Regions from separate parts of the Homo sapiens genome. Here region 2 is linked to region 1. A link means that fine-mapping ties the variant in region 1 to the expression of a gene that starts in the linked region. Tissue or cell type: whole blood. Region 1 holds a variant in brackets; the other region holds the start of a gene. All regions are shown on one strand. Distances are from middle to middle.

The links. PIP is the estimated chance that this variant, and not a neighbour inherited with it, causes the effect.
Region 2: EPS15 starts here. The variant in region 1 is fine-mapped to the expression of EPS15 in whole blood (INTERVAL, PIP 0.97).

Annotation. Positions count from the first base shown.
Region 1 is chr1:51,471,527-51,479,631 of GRCh38, reverse strand. It overlaps EPS15 (epidermal growth factor receptor pathway substrate 15), which reads left to right. Exons shown (of 25, transcript NM_001981.3): 3 at 6,684-6,773; 4 at 7,895-7,942. Among named protein-coding and RNA genes, the nearest start is that of EPS15-AS1, 43 kb to the left of the region's middle. The variant A/G (reference allele first, on the strand shown) is at 3,793.
Region 2 is chr1:51,515,722-51,523,826 of GRCh38, reverse strand. It overlaps EPS15 (epidermal growth factor receptor pathway substrate 15), which reads left to right and starts at 4,561. Exons shown (of 25, transcript NM_001981.3): 1 at 4,561-4,628. The coding sequence starts at 4,596. EPS15-AS1 (EPS15 antisense RNA 1) reads right to left here and starts at 5,555. Exons shown (of 5, transcript NR_183651.1): 1 at 5,381-5,555. It also overlaps a transcript of OSBPL9 not described here. RefSeq lists silencers at 4,338-4,527, 4,678-5,147 and an enhancer at 4,378-5,306.

The sequences.
Region 1 (8,105 bases):
AGTATTTGTTTTTGAATTCTGAGGAGTCAGTGAGAATCAGATACTATTGATGGGGAGAAACCAGAGCAGAAAAGCTGAAAATTCTAAAAATCAGAGCACCTCTTCTCCTCCAAAGGAACAGAGCTCCTCGCCAGCAATGGAACAAAGCTGGATGGAGAATGACTTTGACAAGCTGACAGAACTAGGCTTCAGACGATCAGTAATAACAAACTTCTCTGAGCTAAAGGAGGATGTTCGAACCCATTGCAAAGAAGCTAAAATCCTTGAAAAAAGATTAGACGAATGGCTAATTAGAATAAACAGCGTAGAGAAGACCTTACATGACCTGATGGAGCTGAAAACCATGGCACGAGAACTACGTGACGCAAGCACAAGCTTCAGTAGCCAATTCGATCAAGTGGAAGAAAAGGTATCAGTGGTTGAAGCTCGAATGAAATGAAGCGAGAAGAGAAGTTTAGAGAAAAAAGAGTAAAAGGAAACGAACAAAGCCTCCAAGAAATATGGGACTATGTAAAAAGACCAAATCTACGTCTGATTGGTGTACCTGAAAGTGATGGGGAGAACGGAACCAAGTTGGAAAACACTCTTCAGGATATTATCCAGGAGAACTTACCCAACCTAGCAAGGCAGGCCAACATTCAAATTCAGGAAATATAGAGAATGCCACAAAGATACTCCTCGAGAAGAGCAACTCCAAGACCACATAATTGTCAGATTCACCAAAGTTGAAATGAAGGAAAAAATGTTAAGAGCAGCCAGAGAGAAAGGTCGCGTTACCCACAAAGGGAAGCCCATCAGACTAACAGCTGATCTCTTGGCAGAAACTCTACCAGCCAGAAGAGAGTGGGGGCCAATGTTCAACATTCTTAAAGAAAAGAATTTTCAACCCAGAATTTCATATCCAGCCAAACTAAGCTTCATAAGTGAAGGAGAAATAAAATACTTTACAGACAAGCAAATGCTGAGAGATTTTGTCACCACCAGGCCTGCCTTACAAGAGCTCCTGAAGGAAGCACTAAACATGGAAAGGAACAACCGGTACCAGCCACTGCAAAAACATGCCAAATTGTAAAGACCATCAAGGTTAGGAAGAAACTGCATCAACTAACAAGCGAAACAACCAGCTAACATCATAATGACAGGATCAAATTCACACATAACAATATTAACCTTAAATGTAAATGGGCTAAATGCTCCAATTAAAAGACACAGACTGGCAAACTGGATAAAGAGGCAAGACCCATCAGTGTGCTGTATTCAGGAGACCCATCTCATGTGCAGAGACACACATAGGCTCAAAATAAAGGGATGGATGAAGATCTACCAAGCAAATGGAAAACAAAAAAAAAGCAGGGGTTGCAATCCTAGTGTCTGATAAAACAGACTTTAAACCAACAAAGATCAAAAGAGACAAAGAAGGCCATTACATAATGGTAAAGGGATCAATTCAACAAGGAGAGCTAACTATCCTAAATATATATACACCCAATACAGGAGCACCCAGATTCATAAAGCAAGTCCTTAGAGACCTACAAAGAGACTTAGACTCCCACACAGTAATAATGGGAGACTTTAACACCACACTGTCAACATTAGTCAGATCAGTGAGACAGACAGTTAACAAGGATATCCAGGAATTGAACTCAGCTCTGCACCAACCGGACCTAATAGACCTCTACAGAACTCTCCACCCCAAATCAACAGAATATACATTATTTTCAGCACCACACCACACCTATTCCAAAATTGACCACATAGTTGGAAGTAAAGCACTCCTCAGCAAATGTAAAAGAACAGAAATTATAACAAACTGTCTCTCAGACCACAGTGCAATCAAACTAGAATTCAGGATTAAGAAACTCACTCAAAACCACTCAACTACATGGCAACTGAACAACCTGCTCCTGAATGACTACTGGGTACATAATGAAATGAAGGCAGAAATAAAGATGTTCTTTGAAACCAACGAGAACAAAGACACAACATACCAGAACCTCTGGGACACATTCAAAGCAGTGTGTAGAGGAAAGTTTATAGCACTAAATGCCCACAAGAGAAAGCAGGAAAGATCTAAAATTGACAACCTAACATCACAATTAAAAGAACTAGAGAAGCAAGAGCCAGCACATTCAAAAGCTAGCAGAAGGCAAGAAATAACTAAGATGAGAGCAGAACTGAAGGAAATAGAGACACAAAAAACCCTTCAAAAAATCAGGGAATCCAGAAGCTGGTTTTTTGAAAAGATCAACAAAATTGATAGACCACTAGCAAAACTAATAAAGAAGCAGAGAGAGAAGAATCAAATAGACACAATAAAAAATGATAAAGGGGATACCACCACCGATCCCACAGAAATACAAACTACCATCAGAGACTACTATAAACACCTCTATGCAAATAAACTAGAAAATCTAGAAGAAATGGATAAATTCCTGGACACTACACCCTCCCAAGACTAAACCAGGAAGAAGTTGTATCTCTGAATAGACCAATAACAGGCTCTGAAATTGAGGCGATAATTAATAGCTTACCAACCAAAAAAAGTCCAGGACCAGATGGATTCACAACCGAATTCTACCAGAGGTACAAAGAGGAGCTGGTACCATTCTTTCTGAAACTATTCCAATCAATAGAAAAAGAGGGAATCCTCCCTAACTCATTTTATGAGGCCAGCATCATCCTGATACCAAAACCTGGCAGAGACACAACAAAAAAAGAGAATTTTAGACCAATATCCCTGATGAACATCCATGCAAAAATCCTCAATAAAATACTGGCAAACCGAATCCAGCAGCACATCATAAAGCTTATCCACCATGATCAAATGGGTTTCATCCCTGGGATGCAAGGCTGGTTCAACATATGCAATCAATAAACATAATCCAGCATATAAATGGAACCAATGAGAAATAACTAAGATCAGAGCAGAACTGAAGAAAATAGAGACACAAAAAACCCTTCAAAAAATCAATGAATCCAGGAGCTGGTTTTTTGAAAAGATCAACAAAATTGATAGACCGCTAGCAAGACTAATAAAGAAGAAAAGAGAGAAGGATCAAATAGACGCAATAAAAAATGATAAAGGGAATATCACCACTGATCCCACAGAAATACAAAATACCATCAGAGACTACTATAAACACCTCTATGCAAATAAACTAGAAAATCTAGAAGAAATGGGTAAATTCCTCAACACATACACGCTCCCAAGAGGGTGAAGGACCTCTTCAAGGAGAAGTATAAGCCACTGCTCAGCGAAATAAAAGAGGACACAAACAAATGGAAGAACATTCCATACTCATGGATAGGAAGAATCAATATCATGAAAATGGCCATACTGCCCAAGGTAATTTAGATTCAGTGCCATCCCCATCAAGCTACCAATGACTTTCTTCACAGAATTGGAAAAAAACTACTTTAAAGTTCATATGGAACCAAAAATGGTTCCACATTGGCTCAAAAATGAGCCCACATTGCCAAGACAATCCTAAGCAAAAAGAACAAAGCTGGAGGCATTACACTACCTGACTTCAAACTATGCTACAAGGCTGCAGTAACCAAAACAGCATGGGACTAGTACCAAAACAGAGATATAGACCAATGGAACAGAGCAGAGCCCTCAGAAATAATACCACACATCTACAGTCATCTGATCTTTGACAAACCTGACAAAAACAAGAAATGGGGAAAGGATTCCCTATTTAATAAATGGTGCTGGGAAAACTGGCTAGCCATATGTAGAAAGCTGAAACTGGATCCGTTCCTTACACCTTCTACAAAAATTATTTCAAG[A/G]TGGATTAAAGACTTAAATGTTAGACCTAAAACCCATAAAAACCCTAGAAGAAAACCTAGGCAATACCATTCAGGCCATAGGCATGGGCAAGAACTTCATGACTAAAACACCAACAGCAATGGCAACAAAAGTCAAAATTGATAAATGGTATCTAATTAAACTAGAGAGCTTCCACACAGCAAAAGAAACTACAATCAGAGTGAACAGGCAACCTACAGGATGGGAGAAAATTTTTACAATCTACCCATCTGACAAAGGGCTAATATCCAGAATCTACAAAGAACTTAGACAAATTTACCAGAAGAAATCAAACAACCCCATCAAAAAGTAGGCGAAGGATATGAACAGACACTTCTCAAAAGAAGATATTTATGCAGCCAACAGGCACGTGAAAAAATGCTTGTCATCACTGGTCATCAGAGAAATGCAAATAAAACCCACAGTGAGATACCATCTCACACCAGTTAGAATGGCGATCATTAAAAAGTCAGGAAACAGATGTTAGAGAGGATGTGGAGAAATAGGAACACTTTTACACTGTTGATGGGAGTGTAAACTAATTCAACCATTGTGGAAGACAGTGTGGCGATTCCTCAAGGATCTAGAACTAGAAATACCATTTGACCCAGCCGTCCCATTACTGAGTATATACCCAAAGGATTATAAATCATGCTGCTATAAAGACACATGCACACATATGTTTATTGCGGCACTATTCACAGTAGCAAAGACTTGGAACCAACCCAAATGTCCATCAATGATAGACTGGATTAAGAAAATGTGGCACTTATACAACATGGAATACTATGCAGCCATAAAGAAGGATGAGTTCATGTCCTTTGTAGGGATGTGGATGAAGCTGGAAACCATCATTCTGAGCAAACTATCGCAAGGACAAAAAACCAAACACCGCATGTTCTCACTCATAGGTGGGAATTGAACAATGAAAACACTTGGACACAGGGTGGGGAACATCACACACCGTGGCCTTTTGTGGGTTGGGGGGAGGGGGGAGGGATAGCATTAGGAGATATACCTAATGTAAATGACGAGTTAATGGGTGCAGCACACCAGCATGGCACATGTATACATATGTAACAAACCTGCATGTTGTGCACATGTACCCTAGAACTTAAAGTATAATAATAATAATAATAAAAAAAGAAAACTATTTCATTTGGTTTACAAAAGCAGAGGCTACTAAGTTGAGGGTCTCAGAAAGGGCTTATGCACATAGCTATTAGAAAATAGAACATTAAAATAATACCAACAGTATTCCAAGTAAATAACTATAATTAAATTTTCCTCAACAGTTCATTCAGTCCTGTGTAATTCTTGTTCAGCTGAATCTCGGATTAGAAGTCTGCTTTTATGAAGTACATCTTCTTTCAGACTGAAAAGAGTCCTGGAAATCCTGACTTCATCTACCAATATGGTCTGAAAGTAGTGTGATGTCAGCTGAGTAGTCTTTATCCAAAAATCCACTTTTTGAAATGTTAATAATTCAGACTATGTATGTCTTATAGATACAGACTATATCAAAAGTATAGTCATTTTCATGAGGCTCTAAGACTCTTTGTTGAAGATATATCAGCTTCTGGCCTATAGCTTCTGGCTTTGCCTATGGCAGAGCCTTTAGGCAAGCAGCAGAATACCTCAGAAACTGCCTGTAGATGACAAAGACTAAATGTTTATATTATTAGGGTAACCAAAAGAATGGAAGATAGTAAAATTCTTAATTGGGATACAGTACATAATGATTTCATAAGAGTTTGATCAATGTTTCCCCTGAATGCTTCTATATTTAGTAGGCTGTGTTGGGTATGGATATTTGTTTTGTATGCTGATCAGGAAGTAGGCAAAGAAAAGGAGTTCTGAAGAATTCTACAGGCAGGTTTCCCAATCCTTATACTTCCTCTTATTCCAAATTTGAAGGATTAGGCCATGTTTTTCTTTTTTGCTGAGTGCATGATTTTTCCCATGTTGTACCACTTGAAAGAAAGGTTTTCCCTTTTGCTTCTTTGCTAGGATTGGACTGTCTAGAATGCTTTGTACAGTATATGTTTACAGTAAACTTAATCTTTTAACTAAACTGGAAAAACAGATATCTCACAAATATACTATTATCCTGTTACCTTTCCCATGACTTTTTAAAATGTACTTTTCATTTTTACAAATGGAACTTTAGGAAATCTTTACAAAAATGAGTCTTTTTTTTCCTGTTTTTGTTGTTGTTGTTGTTTGTTTGTTTGTTTGTTTCTGTTCTTGTGACCTCATTCTGTCTTAAAGGAAAGTCCCTGGTCAGTTAAAATGGTATGTTCCCTAATATGTTTTAGGAACTTAACAGCTTTAAAAAGGTTTCTTCAAGTTTATTTTGGAATCACTGCTGGTTTTAGAGCTGCTATTGCTTTGATTTGTTTTAAAGTGCTGCAGTTCCTAAGAGTAGGTATAAAAGTGAAAGTTGATGATTGAAAGATGTTTGAAGAGGCACATAACATGTGCAACTATTCCCATTTGTCAGAAGACCTCTGTAGGAAATGCTGCTCCTTTCTTCCTAGTGCCATTTAATTGGAATTTAAATGACAGCTATAGAAGATATGTGTTGATGTTACAACCCCACGAATTTGCTTTGACAATCCTCTGAGCTTCACTTTTCTCATTTGTATGGTAGGGCATGATAAAACAAAAACCACTTTGTAAATTGCCAGTGCTGTCTAGATAGTACTACTCATATGTCTGTCCACATATTCTTTGGCCCATGGTAGTCAAAGGATTCTCATTCCTTTCTTGCAAAAGCCAGGTCCCAAATCACAGGGATGGAAGGCAGGTAAATGGTGATAATTTTGCCTTTTGTATTTTGTTGTCAACTTACGGATTTGTATCTTTTCAGGTTGATACAGGCAATACTGGAAGGGTGTTGGCTTCTGATGCTGCTGCTTTCCTGAAAAAATCAGGGCTTCCAGACTTGATACTTGGAAAGGTAGTATTCGTTCATTATAACTAGATTATAAGTTTGTAAGGAATGTGTACTATAGATGAACTGGATGCAAATTTAGAAAGATGCCATCAAGAAATTTAGAAGTTAGAACCGAGTCATAGAAGCCATTTTAATAGTAGGATGAAGGGAATTTGTAGCGTAGTGATTTACCCTCTTGAAAAGTAAGGTGTTTTTCAGATTTTTAGAAACAAACTACTTTTTAATAGGATAAAATGAGGAAGTAATAAGTACATTTGGTGGGGAGAAACAGTGAAGACTGGGAATCTTGCCACACACTCAAAGACTTGGCTCTATCCCTACTTCCTCTGTTATAACTGTCTCTGTTTAATGTGTGGTAAATAGACTGGGGGATGAGAGGCTTTTTAAAAAGAGCACAAAGAGGTGGAAAGCCCCTCCCCTGTCTACTCCTTATATGTGATATTGATATATATTCAGAATCCTGAAAAATAATCACAATAATTTAATTATTCACAAATATCAATCATCTCAACTTGCACATAGAAAAGAATATCTTAAGGATCCAAAATCAAGAATAGTATGTACATTCTAGTAGAAAGAGCATTGGTCTCAGAGTTAGAACTTGGATTAATGAAAAAGGCATGTGACTGGAAGTTAGAACTTAGGCTTCACTTCTTTCCCTGGTGCCTTGAATGTTCTTGAGCTAAGTCACTTACCCTCATTGGGCCTTAGTATCTTTGTGAAGGGTTGCACTAAATCAGGGGTGCCCAATCTTTTGGCTTCCGTGGGCCACATTGAAAGAAGAAGAATTGTCTTGGGCCACACATAAAATACATTAACACTAATGATAGCTGATGATCAAAAAAAAAAAAAATCATAAAAGAACCCTCATAATTTCTTAAAGAAAGTTTATGGATTTGTGTTGGGCCACGTGCAAAGCTGTCCTGGGCTGCATGTGGCCTGTGGGCTGCAAGTTGGACAAGTTTGCACTAAATGATCTTTAAGGGTTCTTTCCACTCTTAATTCTATGATTCTTAGATCTGATTACCAGAGAGCCTGAGGTTGTAAATAGCAGAGATTTAATTTATCATTCAGATGACTTTTGTTTAAAATATACATTGATATTTTTTCCCCCTAAATTTCAGATTTGGGATTTAGCCGACACAGATGGCAAAGGTATCCTGAACAAACAAGTAAGTTTCAGATATTCATATGATTTTTTTTTTGAGTGATTCAAAATAAAAAATAGCCAGCAGGGTTTTCTTGTATTTTGAAGCCAAGAATTGGTTTTTACCAACATTAGAGTTTTGCCTAGGGCAAGTGTGTAACAAAGTATTTCCAATCACTAGATGTTAA
Region 2 (8,105 bases), 44 kb before region 1:
AGAAAATAAAAGTAGTTTTGATTTCCTTTAAGGATGGGTTGGGGAGGGGGGTTGGAGTTAGAGTAGGATAGAAAGATGATTGGTGACAAAGCTGTTTATGATTTAAGGTCTTCTCTTTAGGCTCATCCTGGATTTAGGGCTATCGTAAATCCAGAGCCTCATCTTCAGCTTCCCATGTTCAAGGGCAAAATTTTAACAAGTCTTCCTGGGTGGTGATTAATGTCTGCAGGACACCAGCAACACACCCCAGGAAAAAGCGCATTTGAATCAGAAGACCCGTGTATAATTGTGTATAATTCCCAGCTTTGTCATTATGAATTTGGACAAATTCTTCTTCTGTTAAAAAAAAAAGATTAAAAATAACCCTTGTAGAGCTGTTTTGAGGAATAAATGAAATAATGCACATTAAAGCAGCAATTTGTCTGGGTGCGGTGGCTCACACCTATAATCCCAGCACTTTGGGAGGCTGAGGCAGGAGGATGACTTGAGCCCAGGAGTTGAAGACCAGCCTAGGCAACATAGCAAGACACTGTCTCAAATAAAATAAATAAATAAATAAAACAAAAAAAAGAAAACAGCAATTGTTGGTTATTAGTATTCAGATTTAAGTCATCAGATACAACTTTGTTTACCTAGGGAACATCTACTTTTTCAATGACAGGGATATGTCAGTTGTTCAAAGCACCCTTATTCTTATTTATTTATTTATTTTTATTTGATTGATTTTAAAAAAATAGAGACGAGGTCTCACTATGTTGCCCAGGCTGGTCTTGAACTCCTGGGCTCATGCAATCCTCCTGCCTCGGCCTTCCAGAGTGCTAAAATTACAAATGTGAGCCACCTGGTCTGGTCTGGCAGACCCATTCATGTAACTAATATATCTGTCAAACCAACTTAGTTGTTGGAGGGTTGCCTGAAGGGTAGAGAGTTAAATGGTGATCTTGAAGAATGGTATCTTATAGCTGCTACTTATTGAACATCTATTCCAGGCCAGTCTCTCTGATAGGCCATTATACATGAGCTCTAATCCTTAAACCATCCATACAAAGTAGATATTATTATCTTCAATGTAATCATGAGGAAAATGAGGCTTAGTGACCCAGAGACATTAAGTTGTCCTAGAAAAAACAGATAAATTCTTCTTGTCTGCTCCATGCAACTCATTCTTGTTATAATGAATTAGATTATAACATATATTCGATTGGCTACATTTTTCCTCTCCTAAAATAGATTTGGGATATGACCCAGTGCTCTGACGAGATCTGGGCCACACATTTGCAAATTGTCATTGGTTTGTCATTAAAACAAACAAACAAACAAACAAACAAAAACACCTCTCTCAGAAGTTCTAGGCCTTTTTTGGGAATTTGGCCCATTATTCTCTTCCCTATAGACATGCTCCCATCTCCCATTACATGTCATTAATTTAAACCAGAACCTACGAATGAAGAAAGAAGCCACTACAAATTACTAGTGGTCTGGAAGGGGACGTGGGGCAATTCCCATATAAAGATTTTAAGCAAGTCTTCCCTTGCTAGGGCATCTGATTCTTTTTATTTTTTGTTAACCAAGACCCAAGCCTGCTGTCAATGGCTCTTACTTATAGAAGCTATTTATAAAATAAATTTATAAAATATTTGTTCCTTGATTTTCTTATGGGGATAAAGTGAAGATCCAAATAACAATTATATATGAGATTGTATTCAGTTCAATTCAACAAACTTTTATAATGTACTTACTGAACATTAGAAGTTGTGCTTCTAAACATTTGGCCGGGCACGGTGGCTCACGCCTGTAATCCCAGCACTTTGGGAAGCCGAGGCAGGCAGATCACTTGAGGTCAGGAGTTCGAGACCAGCCTGGCCAACACGGTGAAACCCTGTCTCTACTAGAAAAAAAAAAATTAGCTGGTGTGGTGGCGGGTGCCTGTAATCCTAGCTACTCAGGAGGCTGAGGCACAAGAATCGCTTGAACCCAGGAGGTGGAGGTTGCAGTGAGCCGAGATTGCACCGTTGCACTCCAGCCTGGGTGACAGAGTGAGACCTTGTCTCAAAAAAATAAAAATAAAATAAAAACATTTATAAACGGTGAAAAGCAATACTGTATACATACAAGGTGTTATTTATTTATTAGAGATGGGGTCTCTCTATGTTGCTCAGGCTGAATTCGTGCTCTGTGCAACTGCCTCAGTCTCCTGTGTAGCTGGGACTATAGGCATGTGCCACCATGCCTGGGTAAGGTGTGCTTTTGACTTAATATAAATCATATAAAAGTTAAAACAGTAATAATTCCTTACTTTTCCTGTATGAGAAACTGAAGCTCAAAGAGGTTAAATGGTTTGCCTGCGGTCACACTCTGATTCTTAATATTCTCTTTGCTACTCTGCACTGCCTTTCCGGAAACTACATGGCAGGGTTTCCACCTTATTCATCTGAGAGGAATATCTTACATCTCATATGGTTTGGAGGAGTCCCCTTGAATAGCAAGTGAAATTATACTCCCCAAAGCGATTTGCTCCATGATTTTCAGATTTCATAATTTGTGTAGCTACAAGTTTAGGCACTTTTGTATATGTCATCTCATTCATCCTCACAACAACCCTAAGGGCATACAACTAGTGAATGGGAGAGCCAGGAATGGAACCTGGATATTCCTAATGTCTGAGTCCTATTTATTTCACTATACTATGCTGCTTTGTCTATCAGTTGTATAACCCTGGGCAAATCACTTAGCCTCTGTGACCCTGCATTACCTCATTTGTAAAGTGAGTATGACGATTACTTCCTTTTAGAGTTGTGAAGCTCAAATGTGCTAATATAAAGTAGAAAACACCGGTAGAAACACCGGTTGTGGTTATGGCTGATAAGTGTACCAAAGTGAAGTAATGTAAAACAGTATCTCTTATTCTCTCTTCAGTTAAAGAGATTAGCAGCAAAAAAGAAGCCAAGGAAGATGCTCTTGAATAAGTGGTTACTCACCAGACCTATATGGCTTGCTCTTGTTAGCTGGCCTTTGCCAGAAGGAGTCTGAGTAGAATTAGGAGTTCCTTGGGAAATTTCTGGAATGGTTTGCTTGTGGAGGCAATAGTCTAAAAACTTAGGTGGGGCTAACTCCATCCTGGGTCTTGTTCAGTTGTCCCTCCTACCACGGGGACTGCTATGATAATGGTAATGGGTGTAGGCCTGATAGAGTTGTGGTTTGTTGTAATGGGAAGCCATCGTGACTAAGAAATTAAGACCAATTCGGGCAAATACATTTATTGAGGCCTCTGTGGTAGGCTAAACTATGAGGGAGATAAAGCAGTGAGTCAGCCCCTTGTCCTCAAGGATTTTACAGTGCAGTGAGGTGGAGACAAACCCTCAACTAACGCTTACAGATAAGGCAGAGTATAAAAACGGTCACATCAGAACAACTTAGAGGTGGGGTGTGGAGTTCCTAGAAGGCTTCTTGAAGTAGGTGGTATATACTCTGAGACTTTGAAGATGAATTTCAAGTAACTGGGTATTCCAACTGAAGGTTGGCAGCATCAGAAGGTGTAGGATGTGTTATGTTTAATATAGGCAGGAACGAAGGCCTTTACTGAGCATGCACTGTAATGCTAGGGTCTGACGATATAGAAATATATTGAAAACAGTTCTTGCCATTGAGGAGCTCTTAATCTAGAGGGATAGATAGGTGTAAACTGTCATTAGGGTGATGACTTCACAAGGTAGAGAAGAAAGGTTATAAAGGAGAGTGTGTAACTCTGACATAAGGAAGAGAAAAAGATACTTTGCAAAGGAGGTGAAACTTGAATTATGTCCTGAGAAAGAAGGAGGAGTTTGCTAAGTGGATGATGGGAGAAGCTAGGAGTGCTACAGGCACCAGCGTTCCCTTGTTAAACAATCTAAATGTGACAGGCACCAGGCAAATACATTTTTGCTTCCCCTTTCCAAATGGATTTTGGCTGTGGGAGGGAATGACTTAATGTCTTCTTTTCCAATATACTAGCAGATGGTTAAATATTTACAGTTAGACTTGGATTCTAATTCAGCTATATAATTAGCTGTATGACCTTAGTAAGACACTTATTTGTGTTTCAGTTCCTTCATTCATACAATTCAAAAAATAAGAGTCTAGTACAGAGCCTGGCATATATAAAGTGCCATTATTATTTTCTATCATTATCTCATTTAGTCTTTGTAAGTAACTGGGCCTCTAGTTACAATTTCCCCCATTTTTCAGAAGCAGGAGCTCAGCGTAGGTAGGTGGCCTGTCTGAAGTTCACAGGTCAATCTGCAGTCGCCTCCGCAGCCCGTCCGCTTTAATTTTATGTCCGCGCCGGGTTTTCCAAGGCGGCCCCGGGGGCAGGCTCTGGTCCGGTGGCCGAGACTCCGGCGCCAGGGTTTGGGCGGCGCCGCGGCCGGCTCCGGCGGGCGGGCAGGCGGGCGGGGCCAGGCGGGGCGGGGCGGGCGTGGGGAGGGAAGTTGTGGAAGTTAGGGGAGACGCCCGCCCGCCCGCCCCGGCCTCGCCTGCGGCCGCTCCCTCCGCCTCCTCCCCGCCCCGAGCCCCAGTCAGCCCGTCTTCCTTCCCCTCCCTTGCATGATGGAAACACCATGGCTGCGGCGGCCCAGCTCTCTCTGACACAGGTAACGCCACACGCCCGTCCGCCGGGCTTGGCCGGCCGGTGCCCCCTCCCCCACCGCCCTCAGCTTCGCCGACTTCTTGGCTTGTGGGCCAAGCAGGCAGCTTCTTGGCTTGTGGGCCGGGCGGCCGGTGTGTGTGAGGGAAAGCGGGTGCGACTGCGGGAGGGCGCCCTCCGGAGCCGGAGCCCCCCTGCGGCCGCCGCGACCTCGCCCAGGGTCGTCGGGCGCCTCCTGCCCCGCCCCGCGCGGCCCTCGCCGCCCTCCGCGCCGCTGCCGAGTGGACTGTGACCCGGCCGCGCTCTGCCGGTGCCGGGCCGGCTCCCGCGGGGCAGCTTTCACCTACCCAGGAAGTTTCCTCCCACAGGGCCGCACGCATCCCAGGTGAGCTCCTGTTGAGCTCGCGCGGGCCGGCCGCACCCCCGGGCCGCACGAGGCTCGCCCGCCAGGCCGGCTGCGCGCCGCCCCCAGTAGGAGTTGCCTTCCAGAGCCGGACGCGCAGGCCCCCCAAGCCAGTCTTTCCTCTCCAGACCTGCCTTTCTCCCAGGGTCCGACGGAAGCCCTCCCTTCCCAGAGTTTAATGTAGTTAGCCTCGCCTCCAAAGAAGTCTCATCCTACTCAACTACCCACTCTGCCGGCCCCTTCCTCCGTTCAGCCTCTCCCCCCTCCTGATCAGGTTTCCTTCTGGGTCAGACCCCCAATGCAGCCTTTTGCCACCCACGTCTGCTTCCACTTCAACTTCCCCTCGGGGGGCTCACGCCTGATCGCTGTCCAGGTGGATCCCTTTAACGGGTGTGGTGGCTCCGCCAGTCTTGGTGCCAGGAACGGCCTCCCGGGGAGCACTTTTCTTGGGGGGAATCCTCAGCAAAACCTGTTCTCGAGCTTCCCTCTTGCCTCGTTGCTTCCTGTCAAAGTCCAGTCCTTGTGCTTCTCAGAAAACCTCTAAACATCACTCACACTGGGAACCTGGTCCCTCCCTCTCTGTAAAGAAGCCAATTACAATGTAAACATGGTGTCCGGGATGATAAGGTGACAGACACCTGCCAGTTCCTTCCTGCTCCTGTGACCCAAACTCTCCCCCGCGTCTCCTCAGACGGTTCTCTCCAGAGCTGGTGGCGCGTGCTTCCCGATTGGGGCCCATCCCGTCTTCCTTGCCTGCATTGTGGTATCTCACTGCCATCTTGTACTCCTTGGCCTAGATTCGTCGGTGCTTCTAAGGCTTTAGCGCTGGGATAGGGCAAACATTTCGGCAGTGGAGTTTTCTGTGTTTAAAATCAAGAGGCTTTGGGGTGCTTTGCCTAGCACTGTAGGATAGAGAGAAAAAAATGTTTTCTCAGAAACCAGGAGTCACGTACATGCTTCATGTAAAATAACTAACCCGTGTTTGCAGGAATTCTAAGTGTCATAAGGAAAGTCTATTTCCCAGTTTTTTTGATGGTGGTGGTGGTTGTCCTGTTCTGACAAGCAGAGAACCCTTTAACATGGAATGTGGTGGTTTAGTCTTGGTTATGTATGTTTGGAAGGGTCCTCCCAAAACTCAAATTTGAACAACTACAGCACTGACTTTTAGGTATTCACTTTCTGTGAGTCTAGTTAGTGACTTGCATTAAACAAGATCCCTGTTGGCAGGCTGTTGTTTTCTGGCTCTGTTGGCCAATTCTGGCAGGAGTTTTCCCTTGAAGATTTTGTGCTCTTAAAGACTTCCGTAAAATTGCTTCTCAGTTGTGTGCATACTTTATTCTCTCCCTGGGTAATACCATGTTTTTAGCTTCTATTTACATCATTCATCTCTGGAGAATTGCTTCAAGCTCTGTCAGTTTTATAGCCATTTAAAAAATTTACATATGTTCTTGGGTTATATATTTAGGTATTAATGTGTACACAGTAAGTACGGAATCAGTAGTAGCTATTATCCTTCAGTGCCTCACATATGAGATAATATACATTGGTGGTTAATTTTTATTGATAATTCAAATAAGTAAATTCAGAATATTCTGATTTTAAAACATGAAGAGGCAATAAGAGGGATTACGAAGGCACACGAAAAAATAACATTTCCAGTTGCTAGTATACCCTAATGTGCCTCCTTGTTACTTCAAAACTTTGCAGATTTGTGGTTTTTAAATTTAATTTAATTTTTTTATAACTGCCTGAGCCCAATACACTAAGATAACAATGCAGCCTGGTTTCACATTCATTACTGACCCGTTTGTCATCCTCTGTTCCCCCCACCCTGCCCACTCTCCCAGCACACACATTTAGACATAGGCATACTCAAGTGAGAGCTCATTCAGGGCAGGGACATCTTTTAATCCATCTTTCTCCCATGGTACCTATCTGGAAGAAAGTAATTAATAACTGTTGTAGGAATGACTGAAAGCTCTAAAGGGTTCTATAACAGTTATGGAGATTAAACATGCTCAAGTTAATTTCTGCTTCTGTTCATATGTTGATGATTTTCATTCAGCAAATATTTTTATAGTACCTATTATGTACTAGACATTGTACTGGGATTATCGTGTTTATAATTTCTTGCCTTTACCAATTAAGCAAAACTGAGTTTGGGGAAAAAATGTGAAAAATGTTTTAGCTTATGCCTTCCTTCCTTTTTCCAAGCTTGCCAACCAACCCTTCAACTCCCCAGCCACCAAAATAAATTATCTAAATTATTATAGTCTAGCTTCTAGAGATGATAGAATGCTAGAGTACCAAAATGTTAGTTCCAGTTCTGCTTTGGCCACAGCTAACTGTATGGGTTTGGGTTAAATATCCAGGCCTCAGTTTTCTTAACTTTAAAAGAGACTCAACAAACATTTGCTGAGCATTCAGTATGTGCTAGGAATTACTCTAGGTACTGAGGATATATATACTCATGAACAAAAATAGTTAACAATTCTTTGACCTTGGAGACAAAACCTGGAACTTATTTCTGCTAGAGGAGTTTGAATTAGCTGATCTAAGGACCTTTCCAACTTTTAAGATCCTGTTTTATAGACAGTGTTCTATGATTTATAGACCTAGTGGACTTTCTCTGGGTTCTTTAGTGCTTTACAGCCTTAAATGTTTTCTAATTCAGTTGTCTTTACTAGGTGTTCTGTTTACTTCTTGTCAATGAGAAGTAAAACCTGAGGGAGAAAGATCTTGATTTTTGCTTCTGTTGGTAGATTAGAAAAAAAGCATGTAATACTTAAAAAAAAAAAGTTTCCAATAGTCAGTTTTACTCCCTAACGCCCATATCCCTAATAATAATAATACTGTTAACTTCCCTTTGGGAATTACTATATGCCAGGAATTTTACTACACTTAGAATCTAACGATATGTTTTACAAATTAGAGAAGCTAGTAAGTAAGCTAGTAAGTGGTGAATCTACGATTTGAACCAAGGTCTGTAGGACTTCAAAAGCTATTTCACTGTTCTTCTCTATGTACTAGATGCTTGGCCTATCCAACGCTCCCTTACATTTTTTGTTCTTTTTTTTCGGC